5 separate regions of the Homo sapiens genome follow, and regions 1, 3, 4 and 5 are each linked to region 2. Evidence: fine-mapped expression QTL. A gene starts in region 2. Each other region holds a variant in brackets. All regions are shown on one strand. Distances are from middle to middle. Region 1 has its middle 14 kb from the start of SLC6A3. Region 2 holds the start of LPCAT1 (lysophosphatidylcholine acyltransferase 1). Region 3 overlaps LPCAT1 (lysophosphatidylcholine acyltransferase 1). Region 4 overlaps LPCAT1 (lysophosphatidylcholine acyltransferase 1). Region 5 overlaps LPCAT1 (lysophosphatidylcholine acyltransferase 1).

What was found. PIP is the estimated chance that this variant, and not a neighbour inherited with it, causes the effect.
Region 1: its variant is fine-mapped to the expression of LPCAT1 in whole blood (TOPMed, PIP 0.92).
Region 3: its variant is fine-mapped to the expression of LPCAT1 in whole blood (TOPMed, PIP above 0.99). The same link has a PIP of 0.9 or more in T cells and activated CD8 T cells.
Region 4: its variant is fine-mapped to the expression of LPCAT1 in testis (GTEx, PIP above 0.99).
Region 5: its variant is fine-mapped to the expression of LPCAT1 in whole blood (TOPMed, PIP above 0.99).

The regions. Positions count from the first base shown.
Region 1 is chr5:1,457,018-1,461,196 of GRCh38, reverse strand. No RefSeq gene overlaps it. Among named protein-coding and RNA genes, the nearest start is that of SLC6A3, 14 kb to the right of the region's middle. RefSeq lists an enhancer at 4,130-4,179. The variant T/C (reference allele first, on the strand shown) is at 1,739.
Region 2 is chr5:1,521,999-1,526,164 of GRCh38, reverse strand. It overlaps LPCAT1 (lysophosphatidylcholine acyltransferase 1), which reads left to right and starts at 2,205. Exons shown (of 14, transcript NM_024830.5): 1 at 2,205-2,455. The coding sequence starts at 2,321. RefSeq lists a cis regulatory region at 813-1,048 and silencers at 1,818-2,217, 2,238-2,547, 2,818-3,017.
Region 3 is chr5:1,499,271-1,503,270 of GRCh38, reverse strand. It overlaps LPCAT1 (lysophosphatidylcholine acyltransferase 1), which reads left to right. Exons shown (of 14, transcript NM_024830.5): 2 at 1,668-1,810. Among named protein-coding and RNA genes, the nearest start is that of MIR6075, 9.6 kb to the left of the region's middle. RefSeq lists enhancers at 348-1,238, 1,239-2,129, 2,130-3,021. The variant A/G (reference allele first, on the strand shown) is at 1,862.
Region 4 is chr5:1,493,508-1,497,507 of GRCh38, reverse strand. It overlaps LPCAT1 (lysophosphatidylcholine acyltransferase 1), which reads left to right. Exons shown (of 14, transcript NM_024830.5): 3 at 2,594-2,808. LOC124901162 (a long non-coding RNA gene) reads right to left here. Exons shown (of 2, transcript XR_007059103.1): 2 at 1,989-4,000. Among named protein-coding and RNA genes, the nearest start is that of MIR6075, 15 kb to the left of the region's middle. RefSeq lists an enhancer at 2,372-3,571. The variant T/C (reference allele first, on the strand shown) is at 1,860.
Region 5 is chr5:1,476,116-1,480,115 of GRCh38, reverse strand. It overlaps LPCAT1 (lysophosphatidylcholine acyltransferase 1), which reads left to right. Exons shown (of 14, transcript NM_024830.5): 8 at 441-495; 9 at 2,630-2,712. Among named protein-coding and RNA genes, the nearest start is that of SLC6A3, 33 kb to the right of the region's middle. The variant G/A (reference allele first, on the strand shown) is at 1,836.

The DNA.
Region 1 (4,179 bases), 65 kb after region 2:
CTGCCTGGTGGGTTGACTTACGTAATTTCTCAATTTTAAGCACATGCACCTTAAGCGTGTTTTGTCAAGCAGAGAGAAAAATGGATCTGGCATTTAGTCCTACTGAGTCAGTAAAAGGTTTGGAACTAGAGGTAAAAGACCGAGCTCACCTGTTACACTCTCCAAAACTGCACGTGAAGAATCAAGATTGTGTCTCCACCAGCGTCAAGGATGGAAGAAAAACTTAAGGAGAAAAGCCTGCAAATGGCCAATCTGCAGGTGTTTCTCCTTTTTAATACTTTGAAAAACGAAGTTTCAAAGTTCACCATCCACCACCACTCATTTCCCTGTGTACAATTATGGGGGATACTGGGAGGGTGAAAAATGAATCGTTACGTTGTTCAGGAAGGTAAGTCTCAGACATGGGCTACCAGGGAGCTGTGCAGTCTGACCTCACTCAGTGAGAGAGAATGTGCACCAAAATGACATTATTTCAAGCAACAGCAATTTTTACTTCTTCATGCTTGTATGCATCTGCCATTTTTAATACATGAATACTGCCGTTGAAATTGATTGAATATGTCCAAGTTTTCAAGTAAAGCAAGGGTTAAAACAAAAACTAGATCTGCACATCTCACATCAGCACTGGATGGGGCAGCTGCTGCTAAGATGCGGCTGGTGTGAGACCGAGAAGGAGGAGCGTCTGGCTCCAGGTGCCGGCTGTGGGCAGGGTGGCCGTGCCCGGCGGGTGCACCCAGGGAGGTGCACAGCAGGGTAACTCGTGTGGTTTGCAGCACACGTGTTTGTCATCGAACATGCCTCTGCTTCTGTGTGTTCAGTTCTCCACTCAGCATTGGAGCCAGGAGAAATGAAGGTGGGACCCTCAGGAAAAAGCAAACCCACCCCCGGTGTTCACGCAAGAGTTGACACAGCTGCACCTGCTGCTGCCGTATGCTGATCCTAACCAGAAGCTGGCTGGGAGGAGAGGCCCCCTGGGCCATGAAGCAGAGCTCGGGAATGTGAGAAGTGGGGCTGAGGGCAAACGGGGTAGTGAAGGACCAGCACTGCCCACCCATAGCTGCTCTGTGTCCACAAGTAAGTCACACACTCAGACATCTTCCAACACAGTGCTGTACTCACACCACCCAACACAGGTGCTTTTACCTTCCCCAGAAACAGTAGAGACCCATGAGTCTTCCTCGCCACTAATGGTTTCTCTGGTACAGCCACAAACCCATCTGGACATTCTCTGACATGAAAAACTTAAGTTTCAAAGTTCACCATCTACCACCACTAATATTCCCTGTGTAAAATAGTGGGGATGCTGAGAAGTGGGAAAAGGAGTAATCAATTAACAAATGACTTGCATGCTCCCAGGCTCACGTGCACACACACATATGCACAACACGTTCACATCCACACATGCTCACACAATGATACACACATGCTCACATGCACTCATGCTGAGGCTTACACATGTACACACATGCTCACATGCACTCATGCTGAGGCTTACACATGTACACATGCTCACATGCACTCATGCTGAGGCTTACACGTACACACATGCTCACATGCACTCATGCTGAGGCTTACACATGTACACATGCTCACATACACTCATGCTGAGGCTTACACATGTACACACATGCTCACATGCACTCATGCTGAGGCTTACACATGTACACATGCTCACATGCACTCATGCTGAGGCTTACACATGTACACACATGCTAACATGCACTCATGCTGAGGCTTA[T/C]GCATGTACACACATGCTAACATGCACTCATGCTGAGGCTCACATGCACTCATGCTGAGGCTTACACGTACACACGTGCTCACATGCACTCATGCTGAGGCTTACACATGTACACACATGCTCACATGCACTCATGCTGAGGCTTACACATGTACACACGCTCACATGCACTCATGCTGAGGCTCACATGCACTCATGCTGAGGCTTACACATGTACACATGCTCACATGCACTCATGCTGAGGCTTACATATGTACACACATGCTCACATGCACTCATGCTGAGGCTTACACATGTACACATGCTCACATGCACTCATGCTGAGGCTTACATGTACACACATGCTCACATGCACTCATGCTGAGGCTTACACATGTACACACATGCTCACATGCACTCATGCTGAGGCTTACACATGTACACACGCTCACATGCACTCACGCTGAGGCTCACATGCACTCATGCTGAGGCTTACACATGTACACATGCTCACATGCACTCATGCTGAGGCTTACATATGTACACACATGCTCACATGCACTCATGCTGAGGCTTACACATGTACACATGCTCACATGCACTCATGCTGAGGCTTACATGTACACACATGCTCACATGCACTCATGCTGAGGCTTACACATGTACACACATGCTCATGAGCACATTCACATGCACGTCTTCATAGACACATTCACATGCATGCACATGCTCACACTAATGCACACACACTTATATGCTCCCACACATGCTCACACACACACAGCAAGCAAAGAGGACAGCCTGCATGCCCGGTACTGTCCTCATGCTGTGGCTAGCTGTGAGGCTGTGATCAGCAGCTACACCTTCCTTCTTCCACTACCCATTCCACGTTTTCTTGACCCTAAGCAGTACTTTGGATGGTCAGGGTTCTTTACCCAGTGAGAGGACTCAAATTTTCATTCCAGTGTGTCTGATGCAGTTGTCGTCTTGCCTTTATTAGTCACAATATTAGTCGTGAAAGCCCTGAGAAGTACCTAGAGAATCCACTGAGCTCCAAGATAGCCCTTTCATTGGGGTTAGCCATCCCCACCAAGACAGCATGCTTTTCTTGAACTATTAGCTAAGTGGCATGAGCAGCCCCAAATAGCTGATGACCGTCTGAACTTTCAGTGCAGCAGATGGATCACTGAGGTCCCAGGTAAGAGCATTCCAGCCTTGGGAACTAGGACCTTGAAAGCAAAAGAGCCCAATGTCACAGACGAGAAAAGCAAAAATATGTGAATGGGTTTATCAGCCCACCTGGGATCATTGATGCTGCGGTAACAAATGTAAACCAATAAAATGTCAGGGTCAGCTAAACAGATGTGGTCCTCGCCCGTCTCTCCCAGGCAGGTCAGCTGCAGCTCTGCTCCATGTCACCATCTGCATCCAGCCCAGCACAGCAGCCCCTCCTGGGACTCAGCCAGTCAGATGGCTTTGGGAAGAGGTGACAAGCAAGCCTGCCTAGATGCTATATCTGCTGCACAGACGCAGAATACAGCAGGCCCACTCCTGGTTCATTGGCCACAGTAAGCCATGTGGTCACAGCTGAATTCAACAGCCAGAGACGTACAGTCCTGCAAGGGAGCCCCTCAAAGGAGGTGAAGGATCTTCTGAACAGCAGCACCAGCCACCCTGCAGTAAGTGTTGGATGTGGTGGTGAGCAGGGCCAGTCCTAATTCCACCCATTGACATTACAGACATTATTCTGGCTATGAAATGGTGCCATGTCTTGGTCCACAGTTCGAGGCACTATGTCATCCATCAGGATGGCAGTCCAATGTTCTAGGGCACTGCCTCCCCATGGGCAGCACACCTAAAGCTTCAAGAAGTCATCCTCATGCTTAATCAGACTCGCCACCTCTGGGTGATGGGAAACGTAGGGATTCCAAGTGTGTACCTGTTCCCATGCTGCCTTTGCTGTAAAGTAAATTCCTTAACAATGCCATAGGAGGTGGGCAATAGTGAATAAGCCATTCATCAAGCCCACAGATGGTGCTGTCAGAAACACTGACAGCAAAGACATATCCATATCTGGAATAAGGGAAACTGAAACCAAGAGATACTCCCCTCAATGATGGAAGAGTCCAGTGTGATCAACCTGCCTCCAGGGGGCTGGCTAGTCCCTTTCCCAGGAATGGTACCTGGGGCTAAGTATGGGACCCTGCTTCCGACATGTTGGGAGTCCAGTGATAACTGCATCAGCCTAGGCTATTGTTGATGGGTCAGCTCTTTGTTATTGATCCACACTCATCTCCATCCCTATTTCCAGTGCCAGTTTGTGAATGGTTCTACTAGGTAAACACTGGGTTGGCTGGGAAAGAGACAGGCTGACATCCACTGCCTGTGTCATACCCTGGCAGAGACTATAGTAAATTAGACCCGACAAGAGAAAATATTAGTGAACCTGAAAATACAGCTAT
Region 2 (4,166 bases):
CCTGCTGACCCTGCTTAGATTGCCGGGCAGTATGAGGTTCTTCCCCCAGCCTCCCCACCTCCTTCCCTGGGTTCCAACTCACTTTGCACTCTGCAGGTTAAAGCAGAAGGAATTTATTCTCTCCCAGTCTGGAGGCCAGAAGCCTGCGATCATGGCACCCTAGGCCTAGGCTCCCTCTGAGAGCACTAGAGAGGACCTGCTCCAGGCCTCTCCAGCTCCTGGGAACTGCTTGCCTGTAGCAGCAGAACCCTGGCCTTCCCATGGAGCTCTCTCTGTGTCTGTCTCTGAGACCGAATCTCCCTCTCTATAGGGACACAAGCCATTTCAGACTAGGGCCCACCCTAATGACTTCCTCTTAACCTGATCATCTGCAAAGACCCTGTTTCCAAATAAGGTCGCGGCCACAGGTGCTGTGGGTTAGGACTTTTGCATCTTCTGGGGACACAGCCATGACTCTCTGGCAGCTCTCCCCATTGAATCTGGCTCTGCACCATCTCCAGCAGGTTTCCCCTCCGCCACACACCGCTTCCTGGCCTGTGCTTCTGGGAGGACCCCACTTTCATGGCTCTCCAAGTCCAGTCCTGAGGCTGCTCTCATCCCAGGACTGGGACACCCTAGGGCCCCTCCTCTCCAGAGCACTCAGGCAGCAGGTGGGGCCGCCTGGATCGCTGGGGTGCAGGTGCTGCCCTGTGGCTGGCAGGCTTTGTGTCCTGGGCTTTCTTGATGATCAGTTCGGTGAGGAGCCTTGGGTGGCCTCGGGTGCTGGGCTCTGGTTTTGGGGATCAGAGCAAGTGGCCACTAAAAGCCCAGGAGGTGGGTGCAACGCTGGTGGCTGGGCCACAGAGCCACCAATGCCCACCAGCACACAGGGCTCACCCCATCCCCGTGGGTGTGGCACTTGGGACAGGTGCTGCTGCTAGGCATGGGCTGGGACTCTTATGGGGCAGGAATATGGGCTGGGACTCTTATGGGGCAGGAATAAGGCCATGCAGCGGGTCTGGCCTGCCGGGGCCTTCTCTGTGCATGATATGTGGATGGCACAGACCCCTGGCCCTCACCCCGGTCTCAGACACAGAAGGGTCTCTGCCAGCCCGCTGCACTATGAGGTCCACAAGGGCGCAGGCAGGGTCATTGGAGGGGTCGGGGCACTCCCTGGCGTCTGCTGAGGATGGGGCCCAGCTGGGGCCAACACAGCAGTGACATCCCCAGGAGCCAGGACCCTGGGGGGTTGGCCAGGTGGCCCAAACCGGCTCTGTCTGGGTGAGGTCCGTTGGCCATGAAGGAACCAACAGGGCCAGCCGGGGTGAGGAAGCCGTGAGCACTGTGACCGAAGGCCTGCGTGAGTTCTGAAATCCAAGCGTGTTCACCCGGAGGCAGGAGCCCATCCTACTCTCGCTCCGGCTAATTATGGGCCCCACCCTGGGGCTCCTCACACGGCTCCTGAGCACCACAAGGGCAATGCCCGAGCCAAAGCAGCTACGGGTGAGAAAGCGCTGGGATCTCATCGCAGCCCCTGCACAACCAGCACGGACAGTCAGGGCCCCTATGTGCGCCTCCTGCCTGGGCCATCCCTGCGGGGCCTGAGGCCTGAGAGGTCCTGAGATCGGAGGGGTCCTGAGGTCTGAGGGGGTCCTGAGGCTTGAGGGGTCCTGAGATCTGAGGGGATCCCGAGGTCTGGGGGGTCCTAAGGTCGAGTGGACCTCAGGCGGGAGTCGCCTGGGCTGAGGCGCGGCTGGAAGAAGCTCCCTCAGCCCGGGGCAGCTTCCAGGGTCGCCGGTGCGAGCTAGGAGCCCAACGAATAAGAAGAATGGCGTGGGGCCTTCGCCGGAACAGCCCGGGGCTCGGCACCCAGGGCCTGGCCCGCCTTGCGCGTAAGCTGGACGCGTGCCCGCCCCTTCCTCCCTCCCCGCGAGCAGGCGGGCCGAGCGGCGGAAGGGGACGACGTGGCAGCCTCGCGGGCCCGGGGGACCTCCCTTTCTCCTGGCGCAGACCCTGCCGGGGATCCCTGTGCTCCAGTGGCTGCAGGAGGCGCCCCCGGTCCCCAGCGGCCCCGGCCCCCCACAGACCCCAGAGAAACCACCAGGTAGCGGAACTCCGGCTGGTGCCGCCCCTGCCGGCCGGCGGGAGGCGAGGCTTCCAGGGACGCCCCGCCCCGGCCGGCGCTCCCGCTCCGCCCACGTCACCTCCCGCGCCTGCGCGCCCGGCCCGCTCCAGCCGCCGCGCATCCTCGGCCCGCGCCCCGAGACCCGCGCCCAGCTAGCCCCGGCCCCGCTCGGCGCCCCAGGCAGCTCGGCTGCGCTCGCCGCGGGACGGCGCGGCCATGAGGCTGCGGGGATGCGGACCCCGGGCCGCCCCTGCCTCCAGCGCAGGGGCCAGCGACGCTCGGCTGCTGGCGCCCCCGGGGCGGAACCCCTTCGTGCACGAGCTGCGCCTCAGCGCCCTGCAGAAGGCCCAGGTGGGTGCCCAGGGCGCGCGGCCCCGGGAGCCGGCGCGGACGCCAGGGATGCTGGGGCCAGGGAGGCGCGGCCGAGGAGGGGCCGGGGAGGGGGCCTGGGGCGCGGCGCGGCCCTGCGAGCCGCGGCGCCTTCCCTCCCCGCGGCCGCCCCTCAGTTCGCGTCCCCGCCGCCCGCACCCGATGCCTCGGTCTCGGCGCCGGCTTCCCGCCGCCCGCACGCGCATCCTGGTCCCTCAGCGCCTTCCTCGGGGTCCCCGCTTCCCATCCCCGCCCCGCGTTCTGCTCCTCCCCCCAGACCCCTGCACCCTGAACCGGGCCCACAACCCTTTCTCTGCCTCCCAGAGCCCCGACCTCGGCTCCCGCGGGAGGCTGGACCCGCATCGCCGGTCCCCGCGCTCGTCCCTGGTCCGGGCCCCGCCCGCCTTGGCAGGCCCTGCGCGCAGCCCGGGGACTCCGGAGCGGCTTTGCCTGGACGCGGCCCGCGGGCGGGAGGGCACCGCGGCTCTGGGTGAGCCTCGTGTGCGGGGCCTGGTGGTGCCCGGGACAGGGCGCGCGGGCGGTGCGGGTCCCCTGTAGGGTCCCCTGTAGGCGCACGGGTCTCCCTGCTCTGCGGCCGCACGTTGCCTTCTGGGGTGCATGCTTCGCTCCTGTTGTAAGGGATGCTTTCTCGGGGCTGGTCTGACCCGAATCAACTTTATGCAACCTGGGCTGCCACGTGGGAGGGAACGGTTTGCTGAGATCCTGCGATGGGACAGTGGTGAGGGGAGACCCGGGGGCGTCGTGGGGAGGGGGCCGCTCGCTGCAGGAAGCTGCACCGGGGATGTGCTGGCTCAGCCTGGCTTTTCCGGCTACCTGGCTGCCAGCTGGGCTTACAGTTACCTGAGATCCACTCTCAAGAGGACCTTACTTTTGACTCTAGAATAATTCCTAGAAGCAAGCACTGTTTCGGGGCCTATGGGGCTGTCCGGTTTGTAGGGAGCACGCTTCCAATTGTGAGAATAGATTTCCGGGAAGATGGAGATTTGTTAATGCATAAAGTACTTTATCTGAAAGAACCCTGAAGTGAAAAGTTCTTGAGGCCAGTTTGAGCTTGTCATTTTCCCAGGACGCCTGCTTTTGCTCAAAGCCCCTTGATGCGGCTGGTCCTCAGGGTATGGAAGGGGACGGGGAGCAGGAGAGCCCGATGGTGCCGCCCCTCCTGGTGACACACAGGGTGAGGTCGTCCCCAGCCTGGCTCCCAGGCCCTGGCCCCCGTCTCCCTGTGTGTCGGGAGCTGGACTCTGGGGCTGGGGCGGTGCCGGCCCCTCTGCCGCCGCTCTGCCTGGCCCTCTGTCTGCCACACGCTGTCAGCTGCCGTGTGCTGTGCCCCTCAAAGGAGGACTTGGGACACGGTCGCTCATTCTGTGCCCCTCAACCATTCCTCCTCTTCAATCCTCACCCCCACCCAGCCACCAGGCTCTCTCCCTGGTCACTCTCCCTGAGTCACTCCCAGCAGGCTTTCTTCCTCCTGCACTCTGCTGCTCGGAAGCCCTCAGCGGGGACGCCCCCGGATGAAATTCGAACCCCTGCTGTGGTTTCCAGGGCTTCCCCAGCCCTGCTCCTGCCCCAGCTATGGCTGCCTCAGGCATGCTCTCTCTTCCTGCCTTTCCTACTCCCTCCTGGCTCCCTGGGGGGAAACATCAAGCCCCTCCCTGGAGGTCCCCGGAGGCCA
Region 3 (4,000 bases), 23 kb after region 2:
TGGCGGGATAACAGATTTGTGGTTGCTTGGTGCAGCGAGTGTGATGCTGAAGCGGGGACCCAGCTGGGGTGAGGAGCAGCCCCCAGAAGCGGGGAAGGGGAGGCAAATTAGAGGTCGTCATCTCTCGCAAACCAAACATCATCTAGATCTGCGTACCCAACAGGCTGACCTGACCACTGGGCACTGACAGGGTGGAGACACAGGTGGCATAAAGCTGTGAGAGTGAAATGCACACTGCACAATCCAAGACAGCGGGAGAAAATGCAAACTAGCCAGTAGCAACTTCTACGTTGAGTACGTGTCGAAATGGTATTTCAGATATACCGGGCGAAATGAGCTGTATATTAAATTGTCATTCCCTTTAAATGTGGCCACTCGAAAATTTAAAATGACACATGTGGCAGGCATGTTTCTCTTGGGCTATGCTGGTCTCCGTTGAGAACTCAAAAGAATCTAGGGACAAACCAAGGAAACAGAGTGGGAGCGCTCTCATGACAGGCATCAGAAATTAGGGATGGCTGCTGCTTGGGGAGCCAACTGCGATCTGTGTCTCCTGGGTCTTTTCTGTCTCTGCACTAAACCTGCACCTCAGGACTGGTGTTTCCCCTCACCCAAAGCCTCCCGCCCCTCTACACGGAGTCCTGCCCGCCTCCCGGAGGGACCTCCATCCTCAGACCCTGGGCTGCCTGGGATCCCGCAGCCTCGGCCTTCCCTGGCGTGGGGGCCTGCCCTGGCTTGGGGGGCCTTCCTGAGCCCCCATATTGACCTGCGCCCCTGCCCTCCCGCCAGTTCACTCTCCTGCGCCGGGTCTTCCATTGACTGGAAAGTCACACCTTCATTCTGCCGTCTTCTCTGTGGTCTGAGGTCCAACCTTGCAAACTGCAGGCCAGCTACCTCCCCCTGTCACCAACACTGCCTAGGGTGGCGTATGCTTTCTCATGTCCACATAAACGATTTCAGGGGAAACTGCTGAGTGAGGCCTGCGGGGCTGGGGGTGTGTCCTGGGGGGCGGAGCTGCCTGGGGGTGCGTCCTGCGGGGTGGAGCTGCCTGGGGTTGTGTGCTGTGCGTCAGAGTGGCCCTTGAATTTGCAGGAGGAAGCTCCACTGTGTCTTTCCCAAGCCACTCGCATGGCAGCTCCAGTAAGGAGGCAGGAAGCGGGCAGTGGGTGTGGAGCATGTCAGTTAGCACTGGCCAGTGTCCACAGCCATGGTGAGGGCTGGTCGGCATCAGCACCGGTCAGCCTTGGTCAGTGCCGGTCAATGTTGGTCAGCCTTGGTCAGTGCCAGTCAGTGTTGGTCAGCCTTGGTCAGTGCCGGTCAGCCTTGGTCAGTGTCGGTCAGTGTTGGTCAGCCTTGGTCAGCACCGGTCAGCCTTGGTCAGTGCCGGTCAATGTTGGTCAGCCTTGGTCAGTGCCGGTCAGCCTTGGTCAGTGCTGGTCAGTGTTGGTTAGCCTTGGTCAGCGCCGGTCAGCACTGGTCAGCCTCGGTCAGCCTTGGTCAGCCTCGGTCAGTGCTGGTCAGCCTTGGTCAGCTGTGTGCCAGCTGCAGCCCCTCCCCAGCTCTCCACTCTGTGGGGCGCGCTGTCCCCCTGGGCTAGCCTCTGCCGGGTGGGGAGCTGCCTGGTGTCCTACATGGATTCTCTGGATAATGCCCCCCTCTGTCTGCAGGTGGCCCTCATGACACTGACGCTCTTCCCGGTCCGGCTCCTGGTTGCCGCTGCCATGATGCTGCTGGCCTGGCCCCTCGCACTTGTCGCATCCCTGGGCTCTGCGGAGAAGGAACCCGAGCAGCCCCCGGCCCTGTGGAGGAAGTAAGTTGCGCGTGTGCCGTGCTCTCCTCCTGGGGGGGGGTCACGCGGCCA[A/G]ACAGTGGGAACCCATTCTCACAGTGGGGTTGTGTGTCTCCACCCTAGCCCATCTGTCCTTCCCTTCTGAGCCCAGCGTCCACCAGGGCTGCCCCCTGCCAGTGGGGACTCGGCCACCTCCCCGTTGCCTCTGTCTTCCACGCCTCCGCCACAGTCCTGCTCTGAGGCTTCATTTTCCAGGGGTCTGCAGGATGTGTGGCCATTGTTTCACACCCTTGAGCACAGAGACCCCCCTACACCGTAGCCTTCTCTGCTCCAGAACCTGCTGGGGCTCCCTGTTGCTGACGAAAGTCAGGCTTCTGGACACCCTCTCCTGGCTTTGTGACTGCCAGCCCCCTTACCCCTCCCACCTCAGACCCTCAGCTCTGGCCCTGCCCATGGTGGCCTCCCCCAGACCCTCAGGCTGTGAGTGGACGGCCTCTTGGGCTGCAGTGACAGGGCACCACAGTGACACAGGCCTCCTGCCTAGGGAGGTCCCTGCCTCAGTGGCCCCCATGCAGAGGCAGCTGGACCTGGTGCGGGTGCCGTGGGCCCGGGAGGGGCCATCTTCCAGGTGTGAGAGCAGCAGCAATGAGGGGAACGGCTGCTCGGGGGGCAGGTGGCCACCATGGCATCTCCTGCCAACCTGGTCTTATTAAAATTGGGCTAAGTGGGAACAGGTTGCCGCATCATAAAGGCCCAGTGACTTGACATCAAAATCCCCATTTCTGGCCAGTCTTGGAAAAGCAGAAGCTCCGGCCAGTGGGCCTGCTCCCCAGGGCCAGCAACTGGCTGGAGCCAGGCCCAGCCCTGCCTTCGGACAGGAGGCTCGGGTCCTTCCCCGCCCTCCGAGACTGCATGTCAGCCAACGTTGGCCTGGCCTGCTGCCTGCTGGCACCACCCCTCCAGGGCCGTCTTTCCCTTGCTTTGTGGACCTAAACTCTTCCTGGCTTTTAAGCACGGAATATAAATAAAGCACACCTACCCGATGAGGAATACATCTAAACTAAAGATCCAAAACAGACCACAAAAAATTAAACTAAATCACAATATTTTCTTGTTTCATTTAAATTCCTAAAGCTGTGCTTTCACTGAAAGTATCTGCCATTAGCAAATGAAAATGTTGAGATATCATAAATACTTTGATAAATATTTTCAGTATCTTAAAAGTTACCACGCGTGTCCTATAACCACAGCTCTGACAACCCTTCCATGTGTTGTTAACATCTCTCATCATTCTGGAGGGGCTCCCTGAATCTTTTATTCAGAAACAGGAATATTAGTAGTTAATTGGAGGCTGCTGCCTGACTATAAGTAAAGTTTTACTGGAGCACGGGCACGCCCGCTGGCCTGCGTGATGTTCAGGGCTGCATTGGTGGGGAACCGGGCCAAGTGGTTGGGACAGAGGCCGTGTGGCTGTAGAGCCTAAAGCATTCACTGCCTGGCCTCCGAAAGGTGTAATGGGCACGCCCAGGCCCCTCCTTTCTCTGGAAGGTGTCTGATCTGTGGGCTGTATGTACAGCAAAGTTTTCACGGCCAAGAGGCTGATGGGAGCTGACATCTGCCTGAGCTTCGGTTCTCCTTGATACCCAGGGCCACACTCAGACATGCAGTTAGGTGCAGGGGGAAGACGGCCACTTAGGGTCCCGGGTTTGCCGCACCGTTGCGTGCAGACATGGTGCAGTCATAGGAGAGGGCAGCCTGGGCGTTGGGGGTCCCTCACTCTGGGCCCTGCTGAGTGGGTGGACGTTGAGCAGCTTGCTGGGTAGTGGTGACCTGGGGCAGCCTGGGTTCTTTAGGGGCAACAGGATCATCACGGGCTTTAGTTCTTCATTTAGCCTTTCTAGATTTTTAAAATTCTCTTATGCTTTATCTTGGTTTGTTTTTGAAACGTTTTAACCATAAAATAGGAATTGGGTATCAAATATATAACCAAGCAAAGTAAATCAAGGCCAAATCAAAGTCAGGCTTTCAGTTTTGCTGAGTTGAGAAGCCACAGCTAGAAAGTGGGGGTTCTGTAGTGTGAAGCAGGCTGCAGGTGACCTGGCTGAATGTGGTGCTGTGGGCAGCAATGGCTTCGTGGTGCTTTCCTGGCACCCTTTCTCTTTACTCCCCATGTCCTTGTTGGGCCGAGCTCCCCGCCTCCTCTGTTCTGTCTCA
Region 4 (4,000 bases), 29 kb after region 2:
CACCGGCCTGGCACCGTAGCCAGCACTCAGGCTGTGTACATGTGTATAGGTCCTCTCCAGGGCCGGCTCCACTCTGCCTCTTGCCTCTGCTCACAGCAGAACATTTGGAACCTGCAGAGCCGGGGCCTGCGCCTGCCCCTCACGCTTAGACGTGTGGGCTTCCCCCACCCACCTCCACATGCCAGCTGGCTTGAGGAGATGCAGGCCTCAGCGGCCTTCCTCCTTTTCCCCCTGCATGTTCTGGGAGATTTCCTCCTCCTCATTTCCCAGTCTTTCCTGTGAGTTGCTTGTCTCCACAGTGACAGTCTTGGTTTCTGAGAGTGTTTTCTTGTTCTTTGATGCTCCTCAGCGCCCTGTTCTTCCAGACTCTCTTGGCGAGCGTGGTGGATGTTTTGCACCCCTCTTCTGATGCCCACCCTTTCTGTCTCCTTGGGGTCAGTCCTCTGCTTCTCTGCCATGCAGCTGCTCTGCTCACACGTCTCAGGATTCTTGGGTGTCGTCCGTGTGAGGGCGGTAGGACGGAGTGGATTTCCTGGGGGTGCTGATGGAGATCCCCGCTCCTGTGTATGCAGATAGATCTGTCTCCTGATTCACATTCCCCTGGGAATGGGCTGCCCAGGCACCTGAGCACCCTGGGCTTGTGCTGGCTCCCTTTGCCTTGGGGTGAGTGGGTGCTGGGTCCCCAACCCCACAGCAAGCGGAGCTTTTCTCTGAGGCTGTCATCCACACCAGCAGTCCGGGTTTTCACATGTGGATAGTTTGGGTATAAAATTCCTCCAAGATCTTTAGAGAAGAGCTGAGGCTGCTTTTTCCCTGCCCCGACACCCAGTACAGTTCCCCTGAGCACCGTCTGTCCCTGCAATTCGATTTCGGGGCTGGCAGGTGTGTTCCTCTAAGGGCCGCCCGGGTTTTAATCCCTTTTTTCCTGCTGTCCTCTCTCCTGCCCCTGAACCTGCCCGAGACTGGCTCCTGTGCCCGCCGCAGCCTCCTCTGCAGCCTCGCTTCTCCCTCCGCCGCTGCCTTGTTTCTTCCATCTTAGGCATCAATTGCTGTCTTTTGGCTTTTGTTTTTGTACTTTTTTTTTTTTTTTGTGGAAAATAACATGTGCACAGAAGAGTACATCTTTATTTTTTAGTTTAGTTTTCTTGAGATGGAGTCTCACTCTGTTGCCCAGGCTGGAGTGCAGTGGCGCAATCTCGGCTCACTGCAACCTCCGCCCCTTGGGTTCAAGCAGTTCTCCTGCCTCAGCCTCCTGAGTGGCTGGGATTACAGACGCCTGCCACCATGCCCAGCTAATTTTTGTATTTTTAGTAGAGACAGGGTTTCACCATGTTGGCCAGGCTGGTCTTGAGCTCCTGACCTCAAGTGATCCACCTGCCTTGGCCTCCCAAAGTGCTGTGATTACAGGCGTGAGCCACCATGCCTGGCCAGAAAAGTACATTTTTAAATATGCAGCTGAACAGGTGGTGAAGAAGTGCACACCTGTGTAATCCCCCCTCCTCTAGACAAGCAGCACCCTGGGTTGGTCCCCAGCATCTCCATGTGTAACTACACCATTGTTTATCATCGCATACACAAAGGCCATTCCAAGGTGGCCCCACGAGAGGAGGCTTTGTGCCCTCCTAGCAACCGCCTTGGCTCAGATCCATGGGGACCCCTGTCCTGGAAGTCTTCTGGGAGGATCATCTGTCCCAGGGCAATGTGAATCCAGTAAGGCTTCAGGCTCTTGTTTCTCTGTGCAGTAGTTTTACCCAGTGTGATGCGCCCACTTAACCCAGTGGCCGAGTGAGCCGTGGCTTCTCATGAGGCTGAATCATGTTCTCTGTGTGCCTGACCTGTGGCTTCTCACACACCGTGGC[T/C]GTCTGCTGCGTGTCAATTCCCTGAGGTGTGGAATAACAGCCTAATCTGTAGCCTCATATGAAAGAGAATACACACATTTAAAAGGCTAAATTTGTACCTATTTTAAAAAGAGATAAAGAGTACACAAATTCAGTTAACCTAGGCTGATTTTTACTTTATTTTCCAAATTTATTGGCCATCTAATTTCCTCCAGAAACAGCTCACTGTAATAACACAACGCCTGGTTGTGGGAACCCCGGGCTTCCTGTGGAGATGAGATGGGGAAGTTCGCACGCAGGTCTCAGCTTCCGCCCTCAGCTCTGAGCGCCCCCCCCCCCATATTGCGATATGCGTTTTAGGTGTTTTAATGTTTTTCCCATTTCAAAATGATAGGATGCTGATAAATAAGTTGCTAACATGAAGGTCCGGAGGTCTTCTGGCCTGGGACTTGTGCTGTCTGTGTTCCGGAGTCTCATGTTGTCTTAGCACTGCCTGCCGCGTGGCCCGTGACCACCACACAGGGCCCCGCGGCCTCCTTCGTAGGTGAGAGCGCAGCCAGCGAGGACACAGGCGGAGGCCAGGAAGGCGCGGCGTCTTTTCTTCCCTCAAGCAGATGTCCCAGCGGCGGCGACCACAGGAAGCCCGTGGCCTGGACTGCGCCCTGGAGGGCTCTCCCGTGGGACCGCCCCTGTGCCTCACACAGACTCCGAGACTGCGGACGTGTGCCCGCGTGACGCAGCGCCCTCTTTTGCAGGGTTGTGGACTTCCTGCTGAAGGCCATCATGCGCACCATGTGGTTCGCCGGCGGCTTCCACCGGGTGGCCGTGAAGGGGCGGCAGGCGCTGCCCACCGAGGCGGCCATCCTCACGCTCGCGCCTCACTCGTCCTACTTCGACGCCATCCCTGTGACCATGACGATGTCCTCCATCGTGATGAAGGCAGAGAGCAGAGACATCCCGATCTGGGGAAGTGAGTGAGACACCCCTGCTGGGAGTGAGGGACCCTGCCCTGCTGGGAGTGAGAGATCCCCCTGCTGCTGAGAATAAGAGATTCCCCTCCTGCTGGGAGTGAGGGTCCCCCCTCTGTTGGGAATGAGTGAGACCCCCTCTGTTGCTGGCAATGAGGGACTCCCTGCTGGTTTTTAGGGACCCCCCCTTCTGGGAATGAGAGATCCCTCCCTGCTAGGAATGAGGGACCCCCACTTGCTGGAAATGAGTGAGACCCTCCCTACCGGGAGTGAGGGACCCCCCCCCCACCACGCTGCTGGGAGTGATCGAGCCCCCACCGCCGGGCACATTGGCCTTGTGCCCCATTTTCTGTGTTGGGGTTTCCTGTGTAATTTTCGTTGTTGTAATTGTTATTTTTATTGCTACCTGAGTGCCCTCACTATCATAACAGGCTACAGTGCTTGCTCCAGGTCTGCTTGGCAAGGGTGGCTCACCTTTATCAGATGGCAGTTCTGGAAGTCTTTGGGAGCAGGTCGGCAGGGCTGCCCATGCACCGCGGCTGTGCCGTGAACCAGGGACCTGAGCACCTGGTGCTGCCATGACCCCTCCCCAAAGCCGGGGGCTCACTCCAGCAGAGATTCACCCTCTCGTCATCTGGGGACCAGATGTTCAAAATCAAGGCGTCTCTGGGCCGAAGGCCCTGTGCGGCCCCTTCCTGCCTCTTCCTCCTCTGGGGGCTGCGTCCCTCTGACTCTGCCTCAGTGGTCGACTGGCCTGGCTCCCTCCAAGTGTCTCCTCTATGAGTCTCTTATAAGGACCAGTCATTGGGTGATCCAGGATGCTCTCATCTTGAGATCCTTAACGAGTTACCTCTGTAAAAACCTTTTTCCAAATAAGGCCTCATTCACAGGTTCCAGGGTCAGCATGTGGACCCATCTTTGGGGGCCGCATCCCATGGACCCACTGCTCTGGGAGGACTGTAGGGAGCCCTGCGTGGCCCCTCACCCACCTGTGCGCAGCCCTGACCCACCAGAGCTCTGTCCTCGGTGCTCTTCAGGGCATCTGGGCCCGTTCTGTCCTCGTGCTTCCTTCACAGCCGCCATCAGCACAGCACAGCACGTTCTGGGGCACAGCGGGTCCTGGGTTGGCAGTGGGCGGTGCTGAGGGAAGGAGCTGCTGGGACGAGGGGCGTCGCCTATGGCCGGGGCCCTCAC
Region 5 (4,000 bases), 46 kb after region 2:
CCAAATGTCTCCCATGTCAACTCCTGCGGCAAAGGCATGGTGATCCTGGTTCTGAGGTTGGGAACTCTGGATCCAGGCTGGAGGGGTGGCATGACTCAGGGCCTGTGCTGCCTGGGGACAGCGAGGAGGGACAGGTGTGGAGGGACAGGTGTGGGCTGTACGAGGTCTCCTGAGCTGGAGAACAAGCAGGAGATGGTGTCTTGCTAGACGAACCAAGGACATAAGCAGGTGTTGAATCGGAAAAGCAGCATTTCCACCCACGGCTGTACGTCACACTGGGGCTCGGGCTGGGTGGGCACGGCACCCCCTCCGTGGGAGCGTTGACTGCCCAGTAGCGCCCTCTGGAGGGCGCGTCTGGAGGTTTCACCCCAGAATTGGGAGTAATTTACTTGTTAACCCGAGTTGTAAATCTGCTCAACATTGTGCAATCTGTTTTTAAGGCTGGAAATCCTGTGGCTCACGCTGTGTCAGTTTCACAACCAAGTGGAAATCGAGGTTCGTATGGATACAGAGTTACACAGCGCTCTTCACAGTGGTTGATGCAGACACGAGCTTACACCAGGATGCCCAGATAAGCCTTGTACAATGTGGCATATCACCTGTCTTGCTTTCCCATCTTTCCGTTTCTCAGGGCTCCTTCGAGGAGCCTCTGGTTGCTTTACCTCAATGACTTTATGTCTCTCTTATGAGTCTGAACCACTTGGATAAGATTTGGGTTTTTGTTTTTTGTTTTTCTGAGACAGCATTTTGTCTTGCTCTGTTGCCCAGGCTGGAGTGTAGCGATGGGCTCACTGCAGCCTCGACCTCCTGGGCCCAAGTGATCTCCCTGCCTCAGCCTCCCACGTAATTGGACCACAGGCACACGCCATGCCTAGCTAATTTTTGTAGAGATGGGTCTCACTTTGTTGCCTAGGCTGGTCTCAAACTCCTGGGCTCAAGCAGTCCTCCCGCCTTGGCCTCCTAAAGTGCGGGGATCACAGGCGTGAACTACCACACCCAGCTGGAAAGGATTTTTTAAACCTACCATTCATTATTATGGGTATTGTAGCTTAAGGACATATGAAGCTGGCCCACATGCAAATAATTATTTGTTTGGCTCTTAGTTTTACTTTACATATTTAATACCGCTGAGTTTGTCATAGCACCATGCTCTGTTTAATACATAGTCAAAGATCCCCCTTCTCAGCCTGACCCAGGTCTCCAGAGTCAAGACCTTGGGCTAAATAGTCACCTCTGTGTAGCCTGCACAATTTTTTCTAAGTCGATGAGGAGTAGTTCTTTTTTTGTTTAAAAGGGGAATTAATATGCACTTCTTGCATCTGGAAATAAAAGATGAGTCACATGCAACTTAAATATTTAATAAAACAATTTGCTGCCTTCCAGTAAATATTGGAGAGCACTACGAAATATACTGATAAGCCCGGCTTTCAGCCCGGCTGTTCACTTCCATAGAGGATAAGCTGCTCTCATTACAGAGGACTGGGCTGAAGGGCCTTGGCCCGGGCCTGAGGGCGGCAGTTCCCCCACCCAGCAGGATTATGTGGCTGGATGGGCAGTGGCCGGGAGGGTGCAGGCCAGGCCTCGAGCACAGAACACAGGGACTGAGCTTGAGCTCCTGAGGGCTCCCTGGTGTTGAATGGCTGTGTTACAGGCCTGGTTTCTAATTTTAAGAGTTGAAAAGAAAGTGAATGGCTGTGCAAAACTGCTCTGTCCTTACTGACGTTGTTCATACAAGATGCAAATGTTGATGCAAGGAACCATGGCAGTTTACGGAAGTTTTAGAAATAACAGCGAGAATTGGGGTTTCAGGATGTTCCTGTATTCTGAAATATTCC[G/A]TATTAGAGAAAAGGACATCCAGGGTAGTCTTGTGCCCTTTCCTGCACGGTGTGCAATGTGGGTCATATTCATTTAAAATGCTGTGTAAGTGTCACTCAGGCAAGGACAAATTCACTGGACAATTTCTTTTAGTTTCAAAATGCAAGAGGTGGCAAAACGCTGCCAATAATCTGTTCCAAATGTAGGAATAACGTGCTGCATTATCCCCATTACAAAACTGATGCTGTCAGAAATGGGCGTAAGCCCCTCTGTGAGATCAGGGAGCTGGATGTTCTGATGTAGGCAGCAGGAGCTCCTAGGAGCACTGACGGGGGTGAGTGTAGATCAGAGAGCCAGATGTTCTGATGTAGGCAGCAGGCGCTCCCAGGAGCACTGACGGGGGTGAGTGTAGATCAGAGAGCCAGATGTTCTGATGTAGGCAGCAGGCGCTCCCAGGAGCACTGACGGGGGTGAGTGTAGATCAGAGAGCCAGATGTTCTGATGTAGGCAGCAGGCGCTCCCAGGAGCACTGACGGGGGTGAGTGTAGATCAGAGAGCCAGATGTTCTGATGTAGGCAGCAGGTGCTCCCAGGGAGCACCAATGAGGGTGAGTGTTCAGGTGCACACGTGTGCAGTTCATGCATCATGGGGGTGTGTGTGTGCGTACACACACGTGCACATGACAACTTTGAAGACGGTTCTAATGGGCGTTACTTTGACAGATCTTAATTTTGTCAGCCTCCCAGTTGTCGTTACAGTGGTGTTGCTGAGGTCAGCGTCTTGTGATACTAACGCAGCTTCTCTGTGTGCTCAGTTCCTTCCTGTGTACAGCCCTTCTGAGGAGGAGAAGAGGAACCCCGCGCTGTATGCCAGCAACGTGCGGCGAGTCATGGCCGAGTAAGTGAGCAGCTCCTTCCCCCATCGCCGAGTCAGGGGTGTCTCCCAGAGTGCTGCTCTCTGTATATTTAAAATAGGCAACAGCGTTAGGAAAAGGCATTCTTGCAGAAGTGCGGGAACCAGCTTCATGCATGTTGGTGAAGCGTGCTTGGCCTTGTGCTGTGCGCCCCTTGTTTCCCTCTGATGGCATTTCACCCTCTTTGACGTTGGGAAGATGCATGACTGGTTCTTCCAGACCTGCCTGCAGCCGTTGGTCACCCCAGGTCCTATGTTTCCTGTGCCCTAAATGAGCCAGCGGGGCGCTGGCCTGGGCCAACTTCACATCTGTGCGGCGGCCTCCACGCCTACCTTTGCTCATCTGCCTGTGTGATACTTACCGGTGCCCTTACTCTATCTGGCAGAGTGGAGTGGTGGTTGCACATTTAATCTTGTAAGGTGACTTGTGCTGCTTACACAGTTGTCGTGCATGCAGTTAGGAAGAGGGAATGTCCTCGCTTCCCATGGTCCCAGGTCCCCTGCTTGCATGGCCGGCAGTGCTGTCGGCTCACACGCCCTCCCCCTCTCCCTCCCTCGGTGTCGTCAGCTCACACGCCCTCCCCATCTCCCTCCCTCAGCACCTTCCATCCCTCAGGTCCCATTCCCCCCACACTTGTCCTTGCAACCAGGTCCTCCCACCTGGATTTACCCCCACGTGAATGCCTCCCTAGTGCTTCCTCCTGCAAAGCTCTGTCCAGTGGAGCTAGAGCCTCCCCTCCACCGGGCGGCTGCCAGACCTGAGCTGCAGGAGCCACTTGGAAGCCACATCAGCCTCGGTCCACCGGCCCCACCCCCAGGCTCCTGCTGCAGCAGGTCGGGGCATGGCTGGGAACTCGCCTCTCCAGAGAGCCCAGAGGGGAACACAGCCACGGCCGGGCCCATCAGAGTGTGCCTGGCTCTGACCTCCGAGCCACTTTGTTCACACTCCGCTGACACCCTGAAGATTCAGCTGGGCGGCCCGTTCCCTCACGTTCCCATCCTCTCCCTCCCAAAGCATGTGTCCGAGGGTAGAAATGGGCCCGGCAGTCTCTGTCCCGCAAAGCTCCACTCAACCCCCACCACAGGCAGCTCTGAACAATACAAAAAGCTGAGTAGGCGCCGAGCCAGGGGAATGCATTCCCACCTCCAAGCCCAGCACCTGTGCTCCGGACTGCTGCCAATACTGGCTACTTTTGGGGACTTAGGAGGAAGAGAACAGATTTTACAGCGCTCAAGGAGAGATCGCCTGTGGGCCTCACTGATTATTTTAGAA